Linked DNA regions of Homo sapiens: region 2 is linked to region 1. Evidence: fine-mapped expression QTL. A gene starts in region 1. The other region holds a variant in brackets. All regions are shown on one strand. Distances are from middle to middle.

Region 1 (8,343 bases):
GTAGAGAGCATTCAGTCTTTCACCATTAAATATAACAATAGCTATGGGTTTTGTCGATGACTTTTATTAGGTTCTCTTCTATTACTTGTTTGCTGAGTTTTAAGAATAATGAATGAATGCTGAATCTTCTTAAGTGTTTTTCTGCATCTATTAATAGCATCATGTAGTTTTTCTTATTTAGTCTGTTAATATGGAGGATTATATGATGTTCAAATATTGAATTCCTGGGATGAGACTTCGTCACAATGTACTATTTTTCTAATATACTGCTGAATTCAATTTGCTATTATTTTTTGAGGAAGTTGTATCTTTGTTCATGAGGGATTTTAACTTTTAGATTTGTTTTTTGTATTGTCTTTATCTGGTTTTGGTATCCAGAAAATGCTGCCTTCATAAAATGAGTTAAGTGTTTCTTCCTTTTCTACGATCCAAAGAGCTTGTAAGAGAACTGTTATTTTTTCATCCTTGAATGTTTGGTGAAATTTGCCAGTGAAATTATCTCGGCCTGGAGCTTTCTTTTTTTTTAAAGTTATTATTCTTTTTTTTTCTTCCTGGCAAGAAGACTCTTGCCAGGGTTTGTTTTTTGGTTGTCGTTTTGTTTGTTCGTTTTTCTCACAAATTCTATTTCTTTAATACTTATAGGACTATTTCATTTACCTATTTTGTCCTGGGTGAGTTTTGGTAATTTTGATAGTGGCCCATTTCTCTCACATTATCAAATTTATAAGTACAGAGGTGTTCGTGTATTACCTCATCCTTTTTAATGTCTGTTGGGTTGGGAGTGCTCTTAGAGCACGTATGTTTGTTTCTTTTTTAAATTTGTACTTAAATTTTTATTTGCTGATCTTCTCTGTATCATTCCAATTTTAGTATATGTGCTACTGAAGCAAGCACTAGCACAGATGTTATAGGAATGACTTCAATAAAATACTGAAGACAAGGTAGACCTGCAGCATAACTGATCCTCGAACCTTGTTATCATTGATTTCCTCTTTCAATTCCATATCCAGTCAGATATTTGATTTGTCCTTGTCAATACTTCTTCTGATTTCTCTTCATTCCCAATACTGCTTGGCACAGTCTCCTACCTAAATGATTCCCCTGCCACTTAACTAGTCTCGTTGCTTTTTCCCACTGTCATGCATTTTTCATACTGCTACCAGATTTATCTTTTTAGACCTCAAATGGTTCAACACTGCCCACAAGATAAAGGCCTTCCACATCTGGCTTAGTTCTGGTGTTCTGAATAATACTTTTTCCCTAAATCAAGGGTTTTTAACATTTAAATTTGAGAAGGAGTAGTCAACAAATCTCCTAAAATTAAGCATAAAATGTTGTATGGATGTGAATTTTATTTCCAGAGCAAGATCTACAGCTTTTTTAAAAAATTTATTTTTAGGCTGGGTCTCATGGCTCACACCTATAATCCTAGCACTTGGGAAGGCCGGGGTGGGTTGATTGCTTAGGCCAGGAGTTTGAGACCACCCAGGCCAACGTAGCAAAACCCATATCTACTAAAGTTACAAAAATTAGTCAGGTGTGATGGTGCACACCTATAGTCCCAGCTACTCGGGAGGCTGAAGCATGAGAATCACTTGAACCCAGGAGGCAGATGTTGCAGTGAGCCAAGATTGCACCAGCCTGGGTGACAAAGCAAGACTGTCTCAGAAAAACATAATTTTTATATATTTAGAGGGTACGAGTGCAGAATTCTTAGATGTACATATTGCACAGTGGTGAAGCCTGGGCTTTTAGTGTACCCATTACCAAAATTGTGAGCATTGTTCCCAGTATGTAACTTTTCAACCCTCACCCCCCTCCCATCCTCCCACCTTTTGTAGTCTGCAGTGTCTATATGTACGTGTACCCATCACTTCTCAGCTCCTGCTTTAAGTGAGAACATGTGATATTTGGCTTTCTGAGTTATTTCGGTTAGGATAATGGCTTCCAGTTCTATCCATGTTGCTGAAAAAACATGACTTTTTAATGGCTAAATAGTATTCCATGGCATACACACACACACACACACACACACACACACCACCACATTTTCTTTACCCAATCCTCTGTTGATGGAGGGTCTACAGATTTTATCAGATATTCAAAATGAGAAAATTGTACTCTGAATCCTTCAACCTTGTCTCTGTATCGAGAACACACTACAGGTGGGGTGCAGTGGCTCATACCTGTAATCCCAGCACTTTGGGAGGCCAAGGTGGGAGGACTGCTTGAAGCCAGGAGTTCAAGACCAGCCTGGGCAACATAGTGAGACCCTGTCTCTACAAAAAATACAAAAATTAGCCGGGCATGGTGGTGCACACCTGTAGTCCCAGATACTCAGGAGGCTGAGGTGGAGGCTGCAGTGAGCTCTGATCACGCCACTGCACTCCAGCCTGGGCGACAGAGTGAGACCCTGTCTCAAAAACAAACAAACAAAAAAACAAAAAAAAACACTAAAAACAAACTACAGCCTCCACCTCCCTCAATAGTGAGTACAGAGTTATCACTCCTCTCTCTGAAATTAGATTTATAATATTTTAGTGACCTAGCCTAACCTTAACATTTTACAGATGAGTAAACACATCTAGCACTTTTACCTGATTTGTCCAAAGTTGCTCTTATACAATTTGTATTCTGTGCAACTGAGATGGGATTTATCTGCTATTTTATGTGGCCTTTTTATGAAGGCCTTTTCATGTTTCTCCTTCAGGTCGGAACTAAACCTCAGAGTTCTTCAAAACCCCAATTACCTTTATTGTCTTACATAAGCTAGCTGCCCAAATGTTTGCTGAGAATAGTGATAACCATTGTCATATTGAGGTAGAGGAAGGGGGCTGGTTGGTGGGTACTGGTTTAGGGGTACTTTTTTAAGGAAGCATGAGCACATTTTGGATATGCAAAATATTATTAAGTTTAGAGCTTAGATTTGGAAAAACAACACTTAAGCGTCTGTGTAAGGAGAGCTCTGAGAAAAGGGTTTTCAGACAGAACCCAAATTTCTCAAGAAGAACCCTCTAAACAGCATTAAGGAAAAAAATTCCTCTGTAGAAGCAACTAAGAAAAAAAGGAATACTCAGTATTTGGGAAAGAGAAAGGAATGAATGATAACAACACCAGATTGAGTAAGCTACACAATAAATCCAAATTTCAGCCCTACCACATCCAACCTATGTTGCCTTGAGCAAATTATTAAACTTTTCTGTGCCTCAATTTTCTCATGTCTGCCTACTTAAGGACTGCGTGGGAAGATTAAATAAAATGCATGTAAAGCACTTAGGTCAGTACCTTACTCTTAAGGCACTCTTAAGGGTTTGAGAAGGAAGGGAGGGACGTTAAGTGGAATGGTCCTTGGTACATTTTTGTTCCGCGGCAGTAGGATTCTGAAACAGAGGACATAATTACAAAGAAAGTTGGAGTAAGAAGTGGTGGTGCGGGCATCACATTTTCCTGGTGAGTATCTGAGGGCCCATCACAACTGTAGGAAGCGGAAGGGCTAATAAGTGTCAGGCCAAGAGCACACCCTCCAGGGTGCATCTGAGAAGTCGGCGGCCGTCGAGTATTAGCACTTAAATACTACGAGAGCTTTCATGACAAAGGACACATCTTTTGGGGAAACTCAGAGCTTGGGAGCGGCCTCATTAGCGGGGGACCGGGCAGAGGGGGGCTACCAACAGTCCCCTCGGAGTGACCGAAGGGAGATTGAGGAAAGAGTGAGGTGGGAAGAAAATGGCGGCGCGGCTTCTACCGGTTTGCCTTCACACTCTAGCCACAGCCCCGGCTGGAACGGTCACTTACTGGAAACTGCAGAGAAACAACCTGTTTGGTCCGACTTGACAACCTCAACCGGACCGAAGGTGCTGAACAACCAGTGCGGCGAGCGCCGCGAAACCCAACGCCCGACCGCGTAGGGAACGTCACAGCGCGCGCACGCGCAACAGTCGACTAGAAATGTCCGGCCTACGCCACAGAGCGGGGCGGGAGCGGAAGCGACTCTTCCGGTCGCGGGAGCCTTAGGCAAGAGCTGCTGGACTGGAGGGAGGGAGGGGAGGGGAGGGGAGGGGCGCGGGGACTCAAGCCACGGTTTTTGTGTCCGCGGCTGCACCCCTCTCGAAGCGTTTTCACGCACATGTGAGAAACCTCACACCCTGGGGCCGATTTCTTTAGTAGATTGGCGCCCAAATGGCAAAGATTTCCAGGGATTTGTTTGGGATTCCATATTTTTGTAGATTTGCCGAGATTGGATACTAGTACAATATTGAGAATTCCCGTCCAGCAATGTGGCTATTTTTTTAAATTAATTCAGTTCTCCCTTTGTTTTTCAGGTAAAGCGTTGCAGTTCGCTTGGTGTTGTGCGCATTTAACATTTTTTCATAGCTATTTTTGTTATTGTAGTTTGTTTTTACTAATAGACTATTAATCCATTAGTATCCTTGTATAAGAATGGCTTTTGATTGTTGATCTATCTGGACACTTCACTAAACGTTCGTATTCTAAAAATTTGACAGGCAGTCCTCTTTGATTTGTAGGTAAGAATTTATCTGTAAAGAACAATTTTGGCTTTTCCCAAGAATCCAGTGCAACACTGAATAGTAGCCGGAGGTACTTATTTCTTACCAGGAGTTATTTTGGATTGCATCTTAGGTTTCATTCAAGATATCTTCTGCAGGTTTATGGTGTGTGTGTGTGTGGGTGTATAGGCAAATTATGTTCTTTTCGTAGTTTACCATATCGGTTTTTTTTTTAATCAGCAAATGACTAAGTTTTACCAAGTATTTTCAGTATCAGTCTTTGAGATGATTGTATGGCCTTTTTTCCATTACTCTACAATAAAATAACTACAATAATAGATTTTCTAATGGTGAGCCAAACTTAGAATCCTGGTATCTTATTTTTTCAATATATTGCTGGATGCAATTTGCTGTGTAGTTAATTTTGGATTTTCATGTATGCACCTAAGTTAGATTGGCTTATGGTTTTCTTTTGCTGTCCTTGTCTAGTTTTGGTATCAGGTTGTGCTAGGAGTCAGACAGGTTAACTTATTTTTGTATGACCTGGAATAGACATAGCATGTGTGAATGATACATTTCTTAGGTTTTGAAGAACTCATCTTTAAAGCCTTCTGGGTGTGGTGCCATCTTAATGGATAGTTTTGTTTTTTATATAGCGTCCATCGTTATTGATACCTAGAATTTTTTCTTTTGCTTCTTGAGAAAATTAGTTTTTTCTAGAAAAGTATTGGCCGGGTGCGGTGACTCACGCCTGTGATCCCAGCACATTGGGAGGCCGAGGAGGGCGGATCACGAGGTCAGGAGATCGAGACCATCCTGGCTAACACGGTGAAACTCCGTCTCTACTAAAAATACGACAATGAAAAATTAGCCGGGCATGGTGGCGGGCGCCTGTAGTCCCAGCTACTCAGGAGGCTGAAGCAGGAGAATGGCTTGAACCCGGGAGGCGGAGCTTGCAGTGAGCTGAGATTTTGCTACTGCACTCCAGCCTGGGGGACAGAGCGAGACTCCATCTTTAAAAAAAAAGTATTTCAGCTATATTTTCTAACATTTAAAAAAATCTCATATTGTTCTCAACCATTCTTATATATTCTTATATATATATTCTTATATATTGTATTGGAGTCTTTTTCTTGATCATATTTATCAAACCAGCTTTTGGTTTTATAGATAAAATCTGTCTTAAAAGTAATTTCTCTTTCATTAATGTATGCCTTCATTAATTTCTTCTTATCTCTTTGGGTTTATTTTGTTCTTTTTATAGAATCTTGGAAGCTTAACTTTCCTTTAAAATGTTTAATATGAAATATTACCAGAATGTACAGTTACAGAAAATAATATAATGAACACTTGTATACCAACCATCTAGCTTTATCCCATTTTAACATTTTCTCTTATTTGCTTCAGATTTTAACATTCAGTTAGAGCTCCTTGTGAAACTGCCTGCAATCTCATTCTCCCTCTCTTCCTCTCTGAAATTAACTACTTCATTGAATTTGGTATCTGTCATTCCCATGAAAGCTTTTATGTATGCTCCAAATACATGTAGCGATGTTAAGTAGCATAAAGTACTGTTTTATGCTTTTTAAACCTAATATAAATGATATGCATGTCACTTACTTTTGCCACCTATAATTATGTATGTAAAATTTATCCAGGATGATTCCTGTAGTTCTAGTTTTATTTTAACTGCTGAATAGTATTCCATTGTATAATTGTACCACCATTTATCCATTCTCCAGTTGCTAGCAATTTCATGATTCCTGATTTCTGTCATTATAACATGAGTTAGTTCTTGCACACAGCTTCTTAGACATATGGTAAGAATTTCCTTAGGATAATGTCTAGAAATGGAATTGCAAGGTGGAAGGGTTTGCACAGTTCAACTTTGATATTGCCAAATTGTTCTCCAGTGGTTGTACTAACTTACCCTCCATCAGCAATGTAGGAGAGCTGCTGTTGCTCCATTCCATGCCAACACAGGTTATTTTTTTGCCCCAGTTTTTTTGTTTTGTTGTTTGGTTTTTTTTTTGCTGTTACCAACTGCTGACAGTAAATTTTCTTGTACATGTTTCCTGGTACACGTGTGCAAGAGTTTCTCTGACTATAAAGCTAATGCAGTTATTAACTCTATTTTGTTTTCGGTATGTTTTTTAAAAGCATGTACATGTCCCCCTCATTTGAGATTTCTCCCTGTTAATACTAACACTTAACTTATTCATAGATATATCTCACTCATTTTTTTCTATGTATCATGCTTCCTGTTCTCTTTACTGCCTTTGGTTTGACAGTCTTTTTTTCCAGTTTTTTTCCCGCTTTAGTGGTTTGAAAGTTATATTTGATTTTTATTCTATGAATAGTAGTTACTCTTCTAACTCATTTAAAGGTGTATCTTTATATATATGTGTGTGTGTGTGTTTAGAATTCATCAGTATCCATATGAGGCAGTCTGTGTAGTGGTTAAGAGTGGAGCCTGTGAGGCCAGACTGCCTGGATTCAGATCCTAGCACTACCACTTATTAGCTGAGTAACCTAGAGCTTATTACATAAACTCTCTGTGCCTCAGTTGTTTCATCTGTAAAGTGGGGATAATACAGCATATACCTCATGAGGTTGTTCTAAGATTAATATGTTAATATATGTAACATTCTTAGGACAGTGCCTAATGCTTGGATCTCTTTACCAGATTTTTCATCTATGGAATGGGCAGAAGACTTGCCTATCAGAGTTGTTACAAAAATTCAGTGCATTAGTGTATTCATTCATTTTAATACACTGAGCACCTGCTGTGCACTTTTGAATTAGACATGGTTCTCGGCTTCAGTGGTCTCATAAGGGAACAGACATGAAATGCAATTTCAATACGATTTAACCTTAATACTCTTCCCATGTTCTCTCTTGTCCCCCTTCTAATCTGTGCTCCACATTAAGAGGCAAAACATTAATCAGATCATGCATCCTCTGCCCATCATATGTTAACTTTCATTATACTTTACATAAACCATAAACTTCTCACCATGGCCTGAGCCCTCAGGTTCTAAACCCTGTGCCTCCCTCTCTAACCTCATCAACTATCATTCTCCTGATTTCTACCAAATTCCCACCACACTATCCTCTTCTCAGTTCCTTGAGCCAACACTCTTCAGTGCCCTCTGCTCAGATTACTGATCCACCCTGACAGCTCTTCCCACGACTGACTCATCTTTCAGATCTCAGCTTGATTAGGTCAGGCAGTTAGTTACAAGCAACGGAATCCACTCTGGTTGAGAAAGAAAAGGACTTTTAAAAAATCATGTAGCTCACAGAATCTCTAGGAGAGCCAGAGGCCAAATATGGAAACAACGGTACCCAAACACACTAGACGATCTAGTGAGAATCCATTGCTGCTGCCACCATTGACACCAAAACTGCAACTTCCACAAACACTGGCGGTCCCCACTGGTAGCCAGAGTTAGGCATGTTTCCTTCTTCATCTTGCTCACTTTTTTTTTTTTTTTTTTTTGGAGATGGAGTCTCACTCTGTCACCCAGGCTGGAGTGCAGTGGCATGATCTCAGCTCACTGCAACCTCTGCCTCCCAGGTTCAAGCAATTCTCCTGCCTCAGCCTCCCGAGTAGCTGGGACTACAGGTGCCCGCCACCACGCCCGGCTAATTTTTGTATTTTTAGTAGAGACGAGGTTTCACCTGTTGGCCAGGCTGGTCTCGAACTCCTGACCTTGTGATCCACCCTCCTCAGCCTCCCAAAGTGCTGGGATTACAGGCGCGAGCCACTGTGCCCAGCCTGTCTTGCTCACTTTCAAGTTGAAATTTTGCATTGGCTATGCCTGCTTGGTGG
Region 2 (8,343 bases), 44 kb before region 1:
TAGAATTATGTTTCTATGCAGTGGTTCATGCCTGTAATCCCTGCACTTTGGGAGGCAGAGGGCAGGTGGATCAGGAGGTCAGGAGTTCAAGACCAGCCTGGCCAAGATGGTGAAACCCCGTCTCTACTAAAAATACAAAAATTAGCTGGGCATTGTGGCAGGTGCCTGTAATCCCAGCTACTTGGGAGGCTGAGGCAGGAGAATCGCTTGAACTCAGGCAGCAGAGGTCACAGTGAGCCACTATCGTGCCATTGCATTCCAGCCTGGGTGACAGAACAAGACTCCGTCTCAAAAAAAAGAATAATGTTTCTAAGATTACAAGAATTTTACCTTGTATCACTGGGGCCAGAAATTGTGCTAAATGGCTATTACTAGCTGTAAGGGAGGCTGGGAATTTGAAGATTCACTTTTTAGTCTTTGTAAGCTAAAAAGAAAAACAAGAGCTTTCAAGAGACCAAACCTATAATAACTGTCACTAAAAATGCATGTGTGGTAGTAATGGCAGGGGAATGGTGAGAGAGAATAATCAAGAATGATCCCCAGATCAGGCTTGGGTTGTAAATCTACTAATATGAAGAATTCTGGAGAAGAAGCAGGTCAATACTAAGCACTGAGAAATTAAAAGCTTTATTATTATTATTATTATTATTATTATTATTATTATTATTATTAGATGACATCCACTGATTCAGCCCTGACATTATCCACAATTGTTATATGCTGGAGATTTTCTTTCTTTCTTTTTTTTTTCTGAGATGGAGTCTTGCTCTGTCACCTAGGCTGCCCAGGATGGCAGTGGTGCCATCTAGACTCACTGCAACCTCCACCTCCCAGGTTCAAGCGATTCTCACGCCTCAGCCTCCCGAGTAGCTGGAATTACAAGCATGCACCACCATACCCAGTAATTTCTGTATTTTTAGTAGAGACAGGGTTTCACCATGTTAGCCAGGCTGGTCTTGAACTCCTGACCTCAAGTGATCCACCCACCTCAGCCTCCTAAAGTGATGGGATTACAGGCGTGTGCCACTGGGCCCAGCCTGTGCTGGAGATTTTAAAGGAAGAAAAGTAATTTATAATTATCCAAATCCTTGTAATAGTTGGTCAGTTGGGTGGCAAATCCCAGCCTATCAATTATATAGTAGAGTGCCCCATCCTAATGAAACAGTTTATGACAGAATGCTTGCATTAGACATTGCTTGCATTAGACACTGGATTTGTGGCCTCCAAGAAAATTTTCCAAGCAAATGACTCTATTTACCTCCAATTTACTACAAAACAAACATTTGCAATGTAGGAATTACTTAGAAATTTTAGTTCAAGTGTGTACTAAACACAAATGAAATGTTTTTATAGAGTATAGAAGAACTGTAAAAACACAATGCAATGTTTATTTTGAGATACGGTTGTGCCTCAGTCGACATGGAAGTTTGGTTCCAGGACCTCCACATATACCAAAATTCACGCATACTCAAGTCTCACAGTTAGCCTTGTGGAACCAGCTGACAAAAAGTTGGCCCTCAGTATATGCAGGTTTTGCATCCCACAAATACTGTATTGTCAATCCACATTTGGTTGAAATAAATTTACATGTAAGTGGACTCCTGAAGTTCAAACCATGTTGTTGAAGTGTTAACTATACTTAACTTTATAAATACCATCAGCAACAACCATATTACCTTTTTCCTAGGAAAAATATCTGATGGTATTTATAAAGTTAAGTATATTTAAATCCTTTATCTGTCAAATATTAATTTTAGAATCTGATAAGGTTTAATTATTTATTAACCAGATTATTCCTCTTCTACAATTTGACTAGTTGATTATGTGGCAAATAAGGACACCAATCACACCAAGGTGGGTTGATATTATAACACTATAGGGTACCTATGACTTACAAGAGTCCTCTACTGAGTATGAAAACTTGTATCCTGCCAAGTCTGCCTGAAGTCCATCAATCTTTATTATACTTATTTTAAAGGAATCATCCATTTTGCAAAACTTTTAATTTCCAAAATTTGTATGCTTTAAATTTGGGAACTTTGTGCACAGTATTAAAAAACCATTTAGGATGATCCTTTAATAAGATTTATCCCATTAAAACAATGCATTTCTATAAAACTATGTCTTCCAGACTTTCTATATCCAGTTACTAGGTCATACAGATTTTACCTTTGCAATATTTCTTCTATCTGTTCTTTTCAATGCCCCAATCATTGTCTTTAGTCTGATCTATAAATTGGCTGTATTAATATTTATCTTCCTCACTAGGCTACAATAGCTTCCTGTAGGTTTTTTCCTTCCAAATCATTCTGATATTGAATTATATTCCTAGAACAAAGGTTAGAAAATGTCATTTCTGTTTTAAGATGTTCAAATGTTCCCAATGCCTACAGAGTAAAATCCAAACTAGTTCCAAACTACTACTTTGGTCTAATTTCTTACTACATGCCACTTCTCATCTTATGTTCCAGTTTCAACTGCAAATATCCTGATCCAAAATGAACTTTTGTTCCTCTTTACCTTTGCTAATGCTTTTCCCTCAGCCTGGAATGCTCTTTACCCTTTTTTCTGCCTAGTAAAATTTACTCATCCTTTAAGATTTGATTCAAATACCGCCATCTCCTTTGGGGAGGACTACATGATCTACCAATCTGAAACAGATTAATAATTGCTCTGGGCACCCATGGAATTGTACCCTTAGGGAAGTATTTATTTTCTATTAGCTTCTGCCTTCTTGGAGTCCATAGAAAAAAAAGCGTGAATAAATATAAAATAAGAAGCATAGTCACAAATACAGACATGAAGTGTTCAAGTTCAGATACCATATTAAGCAAGTTAAAGTAATTTTTTTTCTTTTTTGAGATGGAGTTTTGCTGTTGGTGCCCAGGCTGGAGTGCAATGGCACGATCTCGGCTCACTGCAACCTCCACCTCCTGGGTTCAAGCCATTCTCCTGCCTCAACCTCCCGAACAGCTGGGATTACAGGTGTCTGCCACCACGTTAGGATTACAGGTGTAAGCCAGCACACCAAGTCAAGTTAAAGCAATTTCTAAATGTATTTGTAAAGCACCTGATTTGTTAGGGCAGATAGTATCCTAAATATTCCATACAAGATGAAAACCAACTTTGTCATTTTGATCATATTTGAGAGTCACAGGACATTTTTACTTAAAAAAAATTTTTTTTTTGGCAAGTCGCAGTTGCTCATGCCTGTAATCCCAGCATTTTGGGAGGCCAAGGCAGGTGGATCACCTGAGGTCAGGAGTTTGAGATCAGCCTGACCAATGTGGTGAAACCCCATCTCTACTAAAAATGCAAAAATTAGCCAGGCATGGTGGCATGCACTTGTAGTCCCAGCTACTCGGGAGCCTGAGACAGGAGAATCACTTGAACCTGGGAGGCAGAGGTTGCAGTGAGCAGAGATCATGCCACTGCACTCCAGCCTATGCAACAGAGCAAGACTCCGTCTCAAAAAAAAAAAAATTTTTTTTGTTGTGAGACAGGGTCTCACTCTGAGTGCAGTGGTGTGATCACAGTTCACTGTAACTTCGAACTCCTGGGCCCAAACTATCCTCTCACTCCAGTCTCCTGAGTAGCTAGAACTATAGATGCATACCATCACACCTGGCTAATTTAAAAATTTTTTTATAGAGATGGAGTCTCAGTATGCTGTCCAGGCTGATCTGAACTCCTTGCCTCAAGCAGTGCTCCCGGCTTGGCCTCTCAAAGTGGTGGGATTACAGGCCACCATGCCTGGCCCATTTGTTATTTTCAATAAATGTTTTTTCTAAGGATATTGTAATTCTGTATTTTAATTATATCATGTGACTTCAAGAACACTATATGAAACTATGCTATGTTAATACATATTTTCAAAAATAAACTTTGAAAGAGACACCTGTTCACTGAATGTCATCTCAGGGTACAGAGATAAAATCCAATTGGCAATTTTTAATGCTTTGAAATATGTGGGATTGCTACTATTCTTGATATATTTAAGAGATGACAATATATATCTAAATTTTAAAGTATGCAGTTTATATAACCAACAAGAAAAATTATACGCATAATATTTTCCTTAACATGTCGTACACTGTGATTTGTAAACCAGGCTGGGTGTGATGGCTCATGCCTCTAATCCCAGCACTTTGGGAGGCCGAGGCAGGAGGATTTCTTGAGCCCAGTTCGAGACCAGCCTGAGCAACACGGCAAACCCCCACGTCTACAAAAAATAGCCAGATGTGATGGCACACACCTGTAGTCCCAGCTAATCAGGAGGCTGAGGTGGGAGAATTGCCTGAGCCCAGGGAGGTCGAGGCTGCAGTGAGCTGTGATCGTGTCACTGTACTTTAGCCTGGGCGACAGAGTGAGACCCTATCTCAAAAAAAAAAAAAAAAAAAAA[G/AG]TAAACCGACTACCAAAAGTACTGCAAAATAAATTTCTTAAACATGAAACACATGATACCTTGGAAAGGTGACATATGTGGTTGTTTCCTCCTTTTTTTCCTTCTCTTTTTCTTGGTGTTTCATATTTTGTCCTTAAAACAAAAGAAAACATATTAATGATTGCTTCAATAAAAAAAGACACAGACCTTATTTTTTAGTAGTGATTATATTCATGGCCCAAAATTTAAATAGCAAAACATCTCCTTTCCACCTGTCAACCAGCCATCTAAATTTTCCCTTAAGACACTTACGGTTGTTATAACAAAATGCCACAGGTGGGTGGCTTAAACAACAGACATTTCTCACAGTTCTAGAAATTTGGAAGCCCAAGATTAGGTTGTCATCAGATTCAATGTCTGGTTAGGGCCCACTTCCTGGTCTCCAGACTACCTCTTATCATGGTATTCCCACAGAGTTGAGAGAGGAAGCTCTAATATCTCGTCGTCTTCTTAATTTTTTTTTTTCTTGAGACGGAGTCTCACTCTTTCACCCAAGCTGGAGTGCAGTAGTACAATCTCGGCTCACCGCAACCTCCATCTCCTGGGTTCAATCAATTTTCCTGCCTCAGCCTCCCAAGTAGCTGGGATTACAGGTGTGCACTACCACGCTCCGTCAATTTTTGTATTTTTAGTAGGGTCGGGGTTTTACTATGTTGGCCAGGCTGGTCTCGAACTCCTGACCTCAAGTGATCTGCCTGCCTCAGCCTGCCAAAGTGCTGGAATTACAAGGGTGAGCCACCACGCCTGGCCTCTTCTTCTTGTTATAAGAGCACTAATCCCATCATGGGGTATCTAATCTCATGATCTCATCTAAATCTAATTACCTCCCAAAGTCCCCACCATCTAATATATCATTGGGGGATTAGAATTTCAGCATATGAATTTTGGAGAAACACATTTAGACCATAATATTTCCCAAAGATAACAAGAAATCTTACAATTTTTTTGCATATCTTTCCAAAGATACTTGTATGCATTTATAGGCAACTAAATATATATGTTCTTCCCTTCAACACCACTACTTCCATAAATGGTAACATATTTTTACACACCATCCTGTGTGGCTATAACTTGAAGGCCATTCCTAATCAGTAAGCAAAGGATTACTTAGTATTTTTTGATTGCAATATATTCCACTGTATAGAGATTCCAGAATTTAATCAGCCTACTGCAGATGGACATTTATGTTGTTTCCAATCTTTTACATACAATATTGCTACAAATAACCTGTAAAGGTGGTTTTAAAGGTGTGTGAATAAATTACTAGAAGTGTAATTGAGGACTCTGGATTATATATATTCCTAATTTTAATAGATATTGTCATACTGCCCTCCACTGACGCTGAATCAATGTTCTTTCCCATCAGCAGAAAGGACCTACACTTCCCCGAACCTTGTTCCCCATGTTATCACATGATGTGATAACAAACTTTTGAATCTTTTAACTAATTAGATAGGTGAAAAATGACATGTTTAATTAAAATCTTCATTTTTGTTACCACGAGTAAGTTTGGGCATCTTTAAATAAATTTAAGAGGCATTTATATCTTCCTTTTGTGAGCTGTCTGGTCATATCTTCTGCACATTTGTCTACTGGGTTGTAAGACCTTTTAAAATTGATTTTTTCCCCATCCTAAATCACATTTTTAGACTATCTGGTGTGGCCAGCCCTATCGTAAATCACATCACCCAAGGCCTCCAGGCAAACAAAGATACAAGTTGAGTATTCTTTATCCAAAATTCCTGGGACCAGAAGTATTTCTAATCTTAAATATTTTGTGATTTTGGAATATTCACATATACAGAATGAGATATCTTAAGGATAGGACCCAAGTTCTAAAAACAAAATTCAAGGCTGGTCGCAGTGGCTCATGCCTGTAATCCCAGCTACTCAGGATGCTGAGGCAGGAGGATCCCTTGAGGCCAGGAGTTTGAGACCAGCCTGTGCAACATAGAGAGATCATGTCTCTAGAAAAAAAAAATTAAAAATTAGCCAGGTGCAGTAGCATGCACCTGTGGTTCCAGCTACTCAGGAAGCTGAGGTGGGAGGATCAACTGAGCCCAGTAGTTCAAGGCTGCAGTGAACTAGGATTGCATCACTACACTTCAGCCTGGGTGACAGAGACAGATCCTGTCTCAAAACAAATAAATTAATTAATAAACTTAGTTTATATTTCACATATACCTTAAACACATAGCCAGAAGATAATTTTATACAATAATTTTTTTTTTTTTTTTGAGACAGAGTCTCGCTCTACTACCCAGGCTGGAGTGCAGTGGTGGGATCTCGGCTCGCTGCAACCTCCACCACCTAGGTTGAAGCAATTCTTGTGGCCTTAGCCTCCCAAGTAGCTGGGATTATAGGCACGCTCCACCACGCCCAGCTAATTTTTGTATTTTTAGCAGAGACAAGATTTCACCATGTTGGCCACGCTGGTCTCAAACTCCTGTGATCCACCCACCTTGGCCTCCCAAAGTGCTGGGATTACAGGTGTCAGCCACCACACCCAGCCAATAATTTTTTGAGACAGAGTCTTGCTCTGTCACCCACACTGGAGTGCAGTGGCACGATCTTGGCTCACTGCAACCTCTGCCTCCCGGATTCAAGAGATTCTTGTGCCTCAGCCTCCAGAGTAGCTGGGATTATAGGCGCGTACTACCATGCCTGGCTAATTTTTGTATTTTTGGTAGAGATGAGGTTTCACCATGTTGGCCAGGCTGGTCTAGAACTCCTGACCTCAAAAGGTCCACCTGCCTCGGCTTCCCAAAGTGCTGGGATTACAGGCATAATCCATCGTGCCTGACCTATGCAATAATTTTTAATAATTTTGTGCATAAAATAAAATTTGCATGCATCATACCACCAGAAAACAAAGGTGTCACTACCTCAACCACTACCCATGTGGGTAATCTGTGGTTGATGGGCATCACCATCATTCCTGACTCTGAATTTATTTATTTGCTACTGATAAGGAATCCTTTTCCTATACTTATTCACACAAAAGTACGTAACAGCAAAAAATATGACATACCAGTAATACAGTGAAAAAATAATGCATTCAGGGTAACTAAGCAGCACAGTAGCACCACCAGAATACCTGTATCAGCTGTGAAACAACAGCAACAACAAACAATGGCAGGCTTTCAGTCCCCACCTATCATGCTGTGTTTTGATTAAAAGGTTACTATACACCATTTTTCTAAGTTATCAGAAGCAGGTGAGAGACCAAGAAGTGGGTCTTCTAAGGATAAGAAGGCTTTCTGCTGGATGGCTTTTTAAAATGTTTCCTCCAGAGTCATCTGCCTCATTAACAATGCTTTTGATTTAGAACTCTCTCTTAGACATTATAAACTGTGATGATTTCTTGTTCTTTTATAAATGTACACTGTTCTATTCCTTCAATAAGCCCAGCACACATTTTCACCATTGCTATCGTTTGGATATTTGACTCTCCAAACCTCATGTTGAAATCTGATCCCCAATGTTGGAAGTGGGGCCTAATGGGGTGTTTGGATCATGGGGGCAGATCCTTCATGAATGTCTTGGTGCCATTCTCTCAGTAATGAGTGAGTTCTAACTCTATTAGTTCCCACAACAGTTCACCTAGAACTGGTTGTTGAAAGAGCCTGGTACCTCTTCCTCTCTCTCTTGCCTTCTCTCTCACCATGAGATCTGCAGTTGCAGGCGCCCCTTCACCTTCTGCCATGAGTGGAAGCAGCCTCAGTCTCTTGCCAGAAGCAGATACTGGCGCCATTCTTGTGCAGCCTGCAGAACCATAAACCAAATAAACCTCTTTTCTTTTTTTTTTAGAGACAGGGTCTCACTCTGTTGCCCAGGCTGAGTGCAGTGGCACAATCATAGCTCACTACAGCCTTGAACTTCTGACCACAAGAGATCCTCCT

Evidence for each region. PIP is the estimated chance that this variant, and not a neighbour inherited with it, causes the effect. A credible set is the group of variants that fine-mapping cannot tell apart.
Region 2: its variant is the best candidate, but not a certain one, in a credible set for the expression of LINC00467 in lymphoblastoid cells (GEUVADIS, PIP 0.75).

What each region holds. Positions count from the first base shown.
Region 1 is chr1:211,378,378-211,386,720 of GRCh38, reverse strand. LINC00467 (long intergenic non-protein coding RNA 467) reads right to left here and starts at 3,966. Exons shown (of 6, transcript NR_026761.2): 1 at 3,796-3,966. It overlaps LOC124904504 (a long non-coding RNA gene), which reads left to right and starts at 3,977. Exons shown (of 2, transcript XR_007066868.1): 1 at 3,977-4,128; 2 at 4,323-8,343. It overlaps LOC107985259 (a long non-coding RNA gene), which reads left to right and starts at 2,437. Exons shown (of 2, transcript XR_001738447.1): 1 at 2,437-3,450; 2 at 3,767-3,895. RefSeq lists an enhancer at 3,784-3,853.
Region 2 is chr1:211,422,402-211,430,744 of GRCh38, reverse strand. It overlaps LINC00467 (long intergenic non-protein coding RNA 467), which reads right to left. Exons shown (of 6, transcript NR_026761.2): 5 at 4,462-4,534. Among named protein-coding and RNA genes, the nearest start is that of LINC00467, 44 kb to the right of the region's middle. The variant G/AG (reference allele first, on the strand shown) is at 4,403.